4 separate regions of the Homo sapiens genome follow, and regions 2, 3 and 4 are each linked to region 1. Evidence: fine-mapped expression QTL. A gene starts in region 1. Each other region holds a variant in brackets. All regions are shown on one strand. Distances are from middle to middle.

What was found. PIP is the estimated chance that this variant, and not a neighbour inherited with it, causes the effect.
Region 2: its variant is the best candidate, but not a certain one, in a credible set for the expression of KANSL2 in blood mononuclear cells (TOPMed, PIP 0.69).
Region 3: its variant is the best candidate, but not a certain one, in a credible set for the expression of KANSL2 in thyroid (GTEx, PIP 0.51).
Region 4: its variant is the best candidate, but not a certain one, in a credible set for the expression of KANSL2 in whole blood (INTERVAL, PIP 0.69).

Annotation. Positions count from the first base shown.
Region 1 is chr12:48,680,606-48,683,293 of GRCh38, forward strand. KANSL2 (KAT8 regulatory NSL complex subunit 2) reads right to left here and starts at 1,633. Exons shown (of 10, transcript NM_017822.4): 1 at 1,582-1,633; 2 at 777-1,036. The coding sequence starts at 1,027. RefSeq lists an enhancer at 1,331-1,600 and silencers at 1,681-1,890, 1,931-1,980.
Region 2 is chr12:48,628,780-48,631,467 of GRCh38, forward strand. It overlaps the pseudogene OR11M1P. Among named protein-coding and RNA genes, the nearest start is that of SNORA2C, 24 kb to the right of the region's middle. The variant T/C (reference allele first, on the strand shown) is at 1,458.
Region 3 is chr12:48,641,109-48,643,796 of GRCh38, forward strand. It overlaps LOC124902928, which reads right to left and starts at 2,543. Exons shown (of 1, transcript XM_047429953.1): 1 at 1-2,543. The coding sequence starts at 1,842. The coding sequence ends at 799. The variant G/A (reference allele first, on the strand shown) is at 1,142.
Region 4 is chr12:48,660,032-48,662,719 of GRCh38, forward strand. It overlaps KANSL2 (KAT8 regulatory NSL complex subunit 2), which reads right to left. Exons shown (of 10, transcript NM_017822.4): 8 at 335-588. Among named protein-coding and RNA genes, the nearest start is that of SNORA2A, 4.6 kb to the left of the region's middle. The variant CT/C (reference allele first, on the strand shown) is at 1,164.

The DNA.
Region 1 (2,688 bases):
ACACACATATATAACTTTGCATGTTATTTAACAAAATTCATGGACAGCCAAATAGAGCCACACACCCCTCCATTAAGAAGAATTTTAGGGGCCAGGTGCGGTGGCTCACTCCTGTAATCCCAACACTCTGGGAGGCCGAGGCGGATGGATCACCTGAGGTCAGCAGTTCAAAACAAGCCTGGCCAACATGGTGAAACCCCGTCTCTACTAAAAAGTACAAAAATTAGCCGGGCATAGTGGCGCACGCCTTAAGTCCCAACTACTTAGGAGGCAGGAGAATCGCTTGAACCTGGAAGGAGGAGGTTGCAGTGAGCCGAGATCTCCACTGCACTCCAGCCTGGGGAATAAAGCAAGAATCTGTGCGCCGCCCCCCCGCCAAAAAATTAACTTTAGGGCCGGGCGCGGTCGCTCACGCCTGTAATCCCAGCACTCTGGGAGGCCGAGATGGGAGGATACCTTGAGGCCAGGAGTTTGAGACCGGCCTGGTCAAAATAGCAAGACCCCATCTCTCTTAAAAAAAAAAAAAAAAAAAAAAAGACTAATTTAGAATATGCCTTTATTTTACAGATAAGGGAAAAGAACCAAAGAGGTGAACTAAGTAATCCAACTCAAGGGTCTTTCCAGTCTTCACCGTTTTTTCAGTTTTCCAAGGATACAACCATAACCCCAAATTTACAAGGACAAAATCTCAAACGCGGCAGCTATGCTGAAGCCCGCATCATATCACATACCCCCTCGCTTTAAGAAAAACGACATATATATCTATACATATATACCCATCTTTCTTCTCTGGCTTTGGGGCAGCATTGGGACATCTTTTTCCATTCTTCGTCGATATATAACTACACTGCTTGAAGGGTGCATTCTTGTCTTCAAGGATATGCTTAATGCAAAACTCCTGCCCCTCCAGACGAGGGTGAGAGCATGGACGATGAGTGAATGCACAAGACAGAGGTTCCTGAGACCTGGGCACTGGAGTGATCCTCCCCCGATTGGTTGGCAAGACGTGAATCCGAATCCTGTTCATAACCAAAACCTGCGGGGTCAAACGAAAGACCAAAAAGCCCTTACCCTTCCCGAAAATTCCTGCTCCACACAGATCGCGCGGACAGTTTCCAAAGGACATGCAGAAGTCGTCCCCGTAAGGTACGCTCCGTAAGTCCCCGCCGCCCTCCCCAAGTCTCCACAGGCATCTGTGGCTTTGCCTCCCTTTAGCGTGTCCCTCCATGCCCGGCCCCACCCCGAACCACACCACGCTGAATGTATCTTCAGGACTCGCACAGCTGCAGCACGAAGGGAAGCGACAACACCAGCCCCACGCGGCGGCCACGCCGCCTCCCCGCACGCCGCCTTTGTCCCGGCCTGCCTCAGAGCGCACGACTGGGCCTGGCCTCGGAAGCCTATGCGAGCGCCATTTTGTCCTACGGCTCCAGTCACCGGAGATCCTGGCTCCTGGAAGCCTGCAGGAAGGAGACTGACTCTGACACTGCTTTGAGGCGGAGTAGCAGCTCTGAGCTGACAAAAAGAGCGAAATAGCAGCCCAACCGCAAGAGCTTAGAGGAAAGAGCACCGCCATCTTACCTCAGGAGCTGCGCTGCGCCGCACTCTGCCGCGCCGCTCGCCCTTCTCTAGTGGCGCCAGCGGCTCTCAGATCGGCCTCGCCCCTTTCCGGACTCCTGGCTACTCATTGGCTACCGCTCGTATGACAGGATGTCGCCATTGGCCGAGACCAACTACCTATCGTGTCTGGGAGGGCGGAGCGCTGAGAAAATGCGAGGTTGGGGTGGCTAAGACAGACTGTCTGTCAGCAACTCCGCCCGGAGGAGAGTGAGCCGGGGAAGGGGGCGGAGAGCGGGCTGCGGGGCGGGTTGCCAGCTAATATTTTTCCACCTTGCAGCGTGGCTCGTTTTCCGGCTACTTTTGGACCCTCAGTCTGTGGTCCTAGGCTGCTGTTCCCTCACCACTGTACACAGCTAGTATAAAATCAGACAGACAGGCCGGGCGCGGTGGCTCACGCCTGTAATCCCAACACTTTGGGAGGCTGAGGCTGGCAGATCACCTGAGGTCGGGAGCTCGAGTCCAGCCTGAGCAACATGGAGAAACGCCGTCTCTACTAAAAATACAAAATTAGCCGGGCGTGGTGGTGCACGCCTGTAATTCCAGCTACTCGGGAGGCTGAGACAGGAGAATCTCTTGAACCTGGGAGGCGGAGATTGCGGTGAGCCGATATCGCGCCATTGCACTCCAGCCTGGGCAACAAGAGCGAAACTCCGTCTCAAAAAAATATATAAATAAAAAATAAATCAGACAGAGGCTGGAGGATCACTGTTTACACATAAAAAGTCTTTAGCTTTCTTTTGTGAACAGTTCAATACATGTACTGAACATTTGGTATAGAGAACACTGAGAAACATTTTTTGGGTGTTTACTGATTCTGGGAATTACATGTATAAAGTCATTGAATTTTTCAAAGCAACCCTAAGAGGTACAGGTTAGTATTATGTCCATTTTACAGATAAGAGGACTGAGGAACAGAATGGGACCATAGCTATTAAATGGGAAAGGAAGACGAATTTGAACCCAGCCCGCATTCTTTATCCCTTATTGCCTCTTATATAGTAAAGAGCATTGGACTGAGAATAAGGAAATATTTGTTCTAGTTTAGGGCTGCTTCTCATAACTGTGTGC
Region 2 (2,688 bases), 52 kb before region 1:
CTCAGGGGACAGCTCATCCCAGGACACACTCACTAAGGAGGACAGGACAGCTTTTGACTTCTTCCTGGATTGATTTCAGCTTAGCCCCTTCCTCAAAGTCTGATGGACTAGAGACCACTGCAATAAAAAGATGGAGACTGTGGGATTGAAAATGGATGTCTACCAAAATGAGGTAACTGTATTTTCCAATTGGAATTGGCCTCCCTATCCCCAGTGGTAGCAGCTTCCCCAACCCCAGCGACAGCAGCCTCTGTCCCTGTCTGAGGGAATTAATCCCACATTGCCTGAAGAAACTGTAATTGCCTCCCCTGGGGCAGTTCCCATGCAAGACAATGCTGATTCTCCTCAGAACCCATACCCATCACTCCTCTTTGGTTCTAAAACTATAGCTAGACCCAAGTCCCTGCAGGCCTCTAAAGGTGAGCACAAAGTGTGACCCATGAGGACATGCACTACAATCCAAAAGAATTACTTGGGTTTTCTAATTTATACAGACAGAAATCCAGTGAACATGCATGGAAATAGATCTTGAAATTGTGGGATGATGATGGAAGGAACGTAAAGTTGAATAAAGCCGAATGTATTGATATACATTTGTGACAGTGGGAACCAGACCACCTGGCTGATCCTAGTGGGCTTCGGGGAGCTGCAATATCTGGGTTTCCTTCCCTTCACTCTCCCTTCAAGGCTCACTAAAGCAGAAATTCTGCATTTAATGTTGCAGCTTGGGGAACTAGGAAGGATTCTAACAGTTTGTTTAGTTGGTTGACTGAAACATGAACCAAAAGGTGGGATACAGTAAGTGAATTAGAAATGCTGGATCTGCCTTGATTTAATGTAGAGAAAGGATTCAACGGCTAAAGGATATTGAAATATTAGAGTGGATTTGTTACTTAAGACCTACTTACCCATGTGAGAGGGCCCAGAAGACATACTTTTCACTATGACTAAGAAATAGGGAAGCCCCGGCATCCTTGAAGAGCTCTGTAATCTCTCTTCACTGTAGCCCAGACCTTACGGTGAGGACTGCAGTCACTGAATTGGGAAACCTACATTCAATGGGAGTGACTGCATCCTGAGATGGCAGAGGCCAAGTGGCAGCACTCAACCTCCAAAGGCAAGGTGTACATGGTTGCCACAATGGACAGCAGAGTCAAATCAGCAATCAGAATAGCCGGACTCACACAGACCTATGGCATACTGTTTCTAGAAATGCAATAGATAAGAAGCCTACTAAATTCTTACTTGATCAGAAAAGTTCTAAATCAAGTGAACATCAGCTAAGTTTTTATCAGGGTTATTCTACTAGTGCCACAAGAGAGTTAGATTGGGATTGTAAGAATGAAGGGGAAGTGATGATGAGGGTAACAAGAGGGATTGAGAATCTCAGCCATCCATCTTATTGGTTACAAGAAATGAAACTATTTCAACTTCCCTTGAATATCTTTCTTCATTTT[T/C]CTCCATGCCAAACCTACTCTTTCTCATGTAGAGAAACCTTCCAAGGATGGTTTTTCTGTGCTGCCTTCCAAGGATTCTCCTCCGCTACCTTTCCACCTTTTCTCTTGCATGTACCTTGGGATATAGAACAAAAGTGAATATATACAAGTGAGTATTTGGCTGGGAGATGAGGCTGGAAAGGTTGATTGGGAAACAGACTGTGATTGATTGATTACTGGTCATTCCAATTTTAATTCCATAAAATGACACCAAATAATTTTGGATTTATTTGGAATAAAATTCCAAATTAATAAATTTATTATAATTATAATTATTATTTTATTTGGAATAAAATTCTAAATTTATTAATAAAAGCATTTAATAAATTGTTGTATATTTTCCATGGGCTAATTATTGCTTAGGACTGGGAGTGCATATGAATTATAAATGATCTCTGACATTGAGGATCTCATAGTTTTTTCAACTCAGTCTTTTTTTTTTTCTTTTCTTTTTTTTTTTTTTTGAGATGGAGTTTCACTCTTATTGCCCAGGCTGGAGTGCAATGGCACCATCCGGCTCACTGCAACCTCTGCCTCTCGAGTTCAAGTCATTCCCCTGCCTCACCCTCCCGAGTGGCTGGGATTACAGGCGCCTGCCATCACACCCGGCTAATTTTTTTTTGTATTTTTAGTAGAAACGGGGTTTCACCATGATGGCCAGGCTGATCTCGAACTCCTGACCTCAGGTGATCTGCCCGCCTTGGCCTCCCCAAGTGCTGGGATTACAGGGGTGAGCCACTGCACCCGGCCTCAACTCAGTCTTAAAAATGGATTTTCATTTCAGATAGCACTAGTACAGCATAAGTTATGTCTCATCTTTCCCATGGCCTATTGGATGACCTCTCATCATGGAGCACTCTCCCTTTTCTATCCATACCTTTTGCTCTCTCTGACACAGGGATCTGCTTGGTTCAGTGTGAGAGTAATTTGAACACCCAGGCCTTTAATGGAAAAAACTGCTGATGGCAGTAGTGACAACGGGATTTTCCAGCTGAACAACTTCTGATACAAAGACCACAAGCATTCCTCAGAAAATGCCTGCAACCTAATGTGCAGCAGTAAGGACTCTATCCCTCTGAGGGCTGGATGAAGTGGGAGCAGGTAAAATAGGTGCAAAACTGAATGCACTGCTCCCTATCACCTGACTGTCAGCCTGTGCTGGGGAAGCTGAATATGGGGAATAAACAGTCCT
Region 3 (2,688 bases), 39 kb before region 1:
GCAGACTTTTCCCCAGACTACAGTAAAACTGACTGTTGCACCATGCTTCAGCTTTGTGTCCAGCATTTTTTCTGCAGCTGAAGACAGTGACAACAAGCTAGTAATGCTAAAAATTTAACTCAACAAATATTTGTGACCTGCCTGCCTTCCTTCCTTCCTTCTTTCCTTCTTTCTTTCCTTCTTTCTTTCTTTCCTTCTTTCCTTCTTTCTTTCCTTCTTTCTTTCCTTCTTTCTCTTTCTCTCTCTCTCTTTCTCTCTCTCTCTCTTTCTTTCTTTTTCTTCGGTCTCCCTCTGTTGCCGAGGCTGGACTGTACTGCCGTGATCTCGGCTCACTGCAACCTCCCTGCCTCGGGCTCCCGTGATTCTCCTGCCTCGGCCTGCCGAGTGCCTGGGATTGCAGGCACGTGCCGCCACGCCTGACTGGTTTTTGTATTTTTGGTGGAGACGGGGTTTCGCCTTGTTGGCCGGGCTGGTCTCCAGCTCCTGACTTCGAGTGATCTGCCCGCCTCGGCCTCCCGAGGTGCTGGGATTGCAGATGGAGTCTCGCTCACTCAATGCTCAATGTTGCCCAGGCTGGAGTGCAGTGGCGTGATCTCGGCTCACTACAACCTCCACCTCCCAGCCGCCTGCCTTGTCCTCCCAAAGTGCTAAGATTACAGCCTCTGCCCGGCTGCCACCCCATCTAGGAAGTGAGGAACATCTCTGCCTGGCCGCCCATCGTCTGGGATGTGAGAAGCCCCTCTGCCCGGCCGCCCCGTCTGGGAAGTGAGGAGCGCCTCTTCCCGGCCGCCACCCCATCTAGGAAGTGAGGAGCATCTCTGCCTGGCCGCCCCATCTGGGATGTGAGGAGCGCTGCTGCCCGGCCACCCCGTCTGGGAAGTGAGGAGCGCCTCTGCCCGGTCGCCCTGTCTGGGAGGTGAGGAGCGCCTCTGCCCGGCCGCCACCCCGTCTGGGAGGTGAGGAGTGTCTCTGCCCGGCCACCACCCTGTCTAGGAAGTGAGGAGTGCCTCTGCCCGGCCGCCACCCCGTCTGGGAAGTGAGAAGTGCCTCTGCCCGGCCACCAACCCGTCTGGGATGTGAGGAGCGTCTCTGCCTGGCCGCCCCGTCTGGGAAGTGAGGAGCGCCTCTGCCCGGATGCCCC[G/A]TCTGGGAGGTGAGGAGCGCCTCTGCCCGGCCGCCCCGTCTGGGATGTGAGGAGTGCCTCTGCCTGGCCGCCCCGTCTGGGATGTGAAGAGCGCCTCTGCCCAGCCACCACCCCGTCTGGGATGTGAGGAGCACCTCTGCCCGGCCACCACCCCGTCTGGGAAGTGAGGAGCGCCTCTGCCCGGCCGCCCCGTCTGGGAGGTGAGGAGCACCTCTGCCCGGCCGCCCATTGTCTGGGAGGTGGGGAGCGCCTCTGCCCGGCCGCCCATCGTCTGGGAGGTGGGGAGCTCCTCTACCCGGCCGCCAACCCGTCTGAGAGGTGAGGAGCACCTCTGCCCGGCCGCCACCCCATCTGGGAAGTGAGGAGCGCCTCTGCCCAGCCGCCCCGTCTGGGAGGTGAGGAGCACCTCTGCCTGGCCGCTGTGCAATCTTCCAAGTGTGAAGTGACAGCCTTTCTGCAGGTGTACCCAACAGCTCTGAAGAGACAGCAACCATCGAGAACGGGCCATGATGACGATGGCAGTTTTGTCGAAAAGAAAAGGGGGAAATGTGGGGAAAAGAAAGAGAGATCAGATTGTTACTGTGTCTGTGTAGAAAGAAGTAGACATAGGAGATTCCAAAAAAAAAAAAAAAGTTGTGAGCATTGGCCATATACATAGCTACCAGGAATTCATTATTTATCAAGGATAAGACCAATGCCATCACAGTTCTGGCACACCATAGGGAATAATACCTAGCATACTTAGAACACTACTAGCTTAATATAATGAATAATATATTCATTCATATCAGGTTCATCTATATGTCAATAAATGCTCAAATACAAGGCAAGTGAGAAGCAGGTGAGGGACTAAAGAAAGAAAAGTCATGAATAGGATATATGCTTAACAGGGATACCTTCTTAAGACATATGTCATTAGGCAATTTCATCATTGTGCAATCATAGAGTACACCTACACAAACCGAGATGGTATAGCCTACCACCCACCTACACTCTATGGTATAGCATATTGCTCCTAAGTTACAAATCCGTACAGCATGTGACTGCACTGAATACTATAGGCAACTGTAACACAATGGTAAGTATTTGTGTATGTAAACATAGCAAAACATAGAAAAGGTACACTAAAAATACCATATTATAACCTTATGGCACCACCATCACATATGTAGTCCATCCGTGACCAAAATGTTATGTGGTGCATGACTATATGCTTTAGGTAGCATGTGGGTGCAAAATGAGTTACTCCACACTAAGACTTGTATAAAACACATGCAAAGTTACTTTAAAAATATAAAACAGCCCTAGGCCAAGATTTGACTGAAACATTTATTGATATTAACATTTTCTTTTGGTTTGTGTGTGTTTTCTTTTTTTTAAGAGGTAGGGCCTCGCTCTGTGGCCCAGGCTGGAGTATAGTGGCATGATCGTGGCTCACTGCAACCTCAAAATTTCTGGGCTCAGGTAATCCTCCCGCCTCAGCCTCATGAGTAGCTAGCACTACAGGTGCACAGCACTGTTGTACCAGGCTAATTTTTTTCTTTTTT
Region 4 (2,688 bases), 21 kb before region 1:
TGGAGATGGTGAAAACCTTCTGAAATTAGATAGTGGTGGTAGTTGCGTAACTTTGCGAATATACTAAAAATCACTCAATTATACACTTTCAAAGAGTGCAATTTATAGTATGTAAATTGTATCCCTAAAAAGGTATGGGAAGAGTCTGGAAAAAAATATAAGGTAGGGTAGATTTCTCTAAATGAATATGCTAACATATAAATACAACTATACGTATATATCACTTCAAAAACTTTGTCGATTCTCCTAACCACAAAGACTAACCTATTCTCACCATTAATAAATAAGGCTTTGTCTCAAGGGCCTGAACCAAAGCAGAGCTTCTCTAACTTACATCACTGAACTCCAGAGGTAAACTCTCAGTGGGCTGAAGCTCAGCAGCACTCAAGTACAGATCCATGGGGCCGGCTTCCAGATCGTCTGGCACAGACAGTACCTGCTCGGGCTTATACATCTGAGGAGGCAACTGGAAATGCAGTGGGCAGCAGGGATCCTCAGAGAGGCTTACAGGAACAGGTTTGTTGCAGGGTACCTCTTCAGATCCCTGGCAGCACTTGAAGAGAACCTGATTCGTATCCTGACAAATATCTGTAGAAAAATGGTCAAGGGAAATAAAACACAATCTATCGAAAGCATAAAATACAAATAGCATTGTCTGCCACATAAAACTCAAGGTGTGGACTATATAAGATAAATTACAACTACATTTGATACAGAATACCAAATGCAGTTAGCAATTTTTAAAGTTACTTCTCAAAATAAATGTCATTTACTAGCATCAAATTCTAGCTCTACCAGTAATTTAAAACTTGTCCCCAACCTCCTTTTCAGGATCCTGGTCATTTAAACTAGACACCATCCCATTCTCCCTTAAGCAAGTAGCAGTAACACTCCTAGGAACACACACATATTCAGAAGAAACATGTAGTGGCAAATGCAAATAGCCTTGAAAATGCCCCTAAACAGCCCTTCCAAAAGAGTCAAGCGATACAATGTCTCTGCTCCCTTAGCAGACTGGCAAAGTTTGCAACAATTTCTTGGACCTCGTTTCCAAAGATGATTACATGATAAATTCATTTAAAGCACCACTGGAATAGGGGGAAACAGAGCTCTAGTAAAAGTCACTAGGTATCATATCCTAACAAGAAATTAAATATACATGC[CT/C]TTTTTTTTTAGGGGAGTGTGCTAGTACAGAGGAATCCTTTTATGATCCTAAAGGAAGAAGAAAATTTTGTGTATGAAGGCCCATTGAAAAAAAAAAGTATTCTAGAAACATTCCAAGGACTCTATTAACAACTTTTGTTAAAGGTAGAAGAAGAAAAGGGCTATATTTCCAAGTTAGCAAAGAAGCTCTGTAGGATGAACCAAAATTGAGATGATTAGATACAATAAAATTCAAGTTACTTTACAAAACACATTTTATGCAAGTGCTACCATTTCTTGAAATCTGTTAACTACCTGGTTATCTTCCTAGATTAATAAACATTATTTTAAAATTTGACTTATTTTTAACCAGAAAACACAATTTTTCTTAAACTGATAGTACCTGAATTATGGAGTTATAATTTTCAACTCAAAACTTTTATGGTAATTTTTTTAAATAAAAAAACTAACATACATTATAATTTTTAAAACCATATGAACTTCCTTGAATAAAGCTATTTCTTTCAATGCATACTTGGAAATAACTAAACTCTCAAGCAGGGTGTGACAACTGTGGCACTACCAACACTGTAGGCCAGGTACATCTTTGTTGGAAGAAGGATGTATAGCAGCATTCCTGGCCTCTATCCACTAGCTGTCAGTAGCACCTCCATCTGAGTTGTAACAACCAAAAATTTCTCCACACATTGCCAACTGGAAAACAAAATGGCCCCCAGTTGAAAACCACTACTCTAAAGAAACAGAAGATAGTACAAGGCAAACAAATATTTATTGAATGATCAAATGAATAAACATATGAATCTAATGGGAATCATCAGATTTGCACTATGCGCTTAAGAAAATCTAAGCAATATCTAATGTGCTTAAGAAGCCCACTCTTAATATTTAAAATATTATCCATTAAATGTTTCAACCAGAAATTTTTTTTACACGAAGTCTCGCTCTGTCACCCAGGCTAGAATGCAGTGGCGTGATCTCGGCTCACTGCAACCTCTGCCTCCTGGGTTCAAGAGATTCTCCTGCCGCAGACTCCAAAGTAGCTGGGATTACAGGCACCTGCCATCACACCCGGCTGATTTTTATACTTCTAGTAGAGACAGGGTTTCGCCATGTTGGCCAGGCTGGTCTCTAACTCCTGACCTCAGGTGATCAGCCCGCCTCAGCCTCCCAAAGTGTTGGGATTACAGGCGTGAGCCACCACGCCTGGCCAAGAACTTTTTTTTATTGGAATTCAAAGGACTTTCACAAGTCTCTTATGTATTTAATACCACAATATCCTAAAAAAGGACTCCCCCCATCATCCTCCACCCGCTTTCCTTTCAGATGGGGCAAAAGAGGTAAAAAGAAGGGAATGGTTAACCTACAACTAGAGTCTGGGTCCTTCACTTTCAGTCGAGTGCTGTCTCCATTAGACCACAGTAAAGAGTTAACAGGTCACCAATGGCAGTCGCATCTTTCTCTGGGATAAGGACTTAAGGAAGGGTAAGTGACTTAGGCAACTATGGAGTGGAAAGGAAAGAGCAT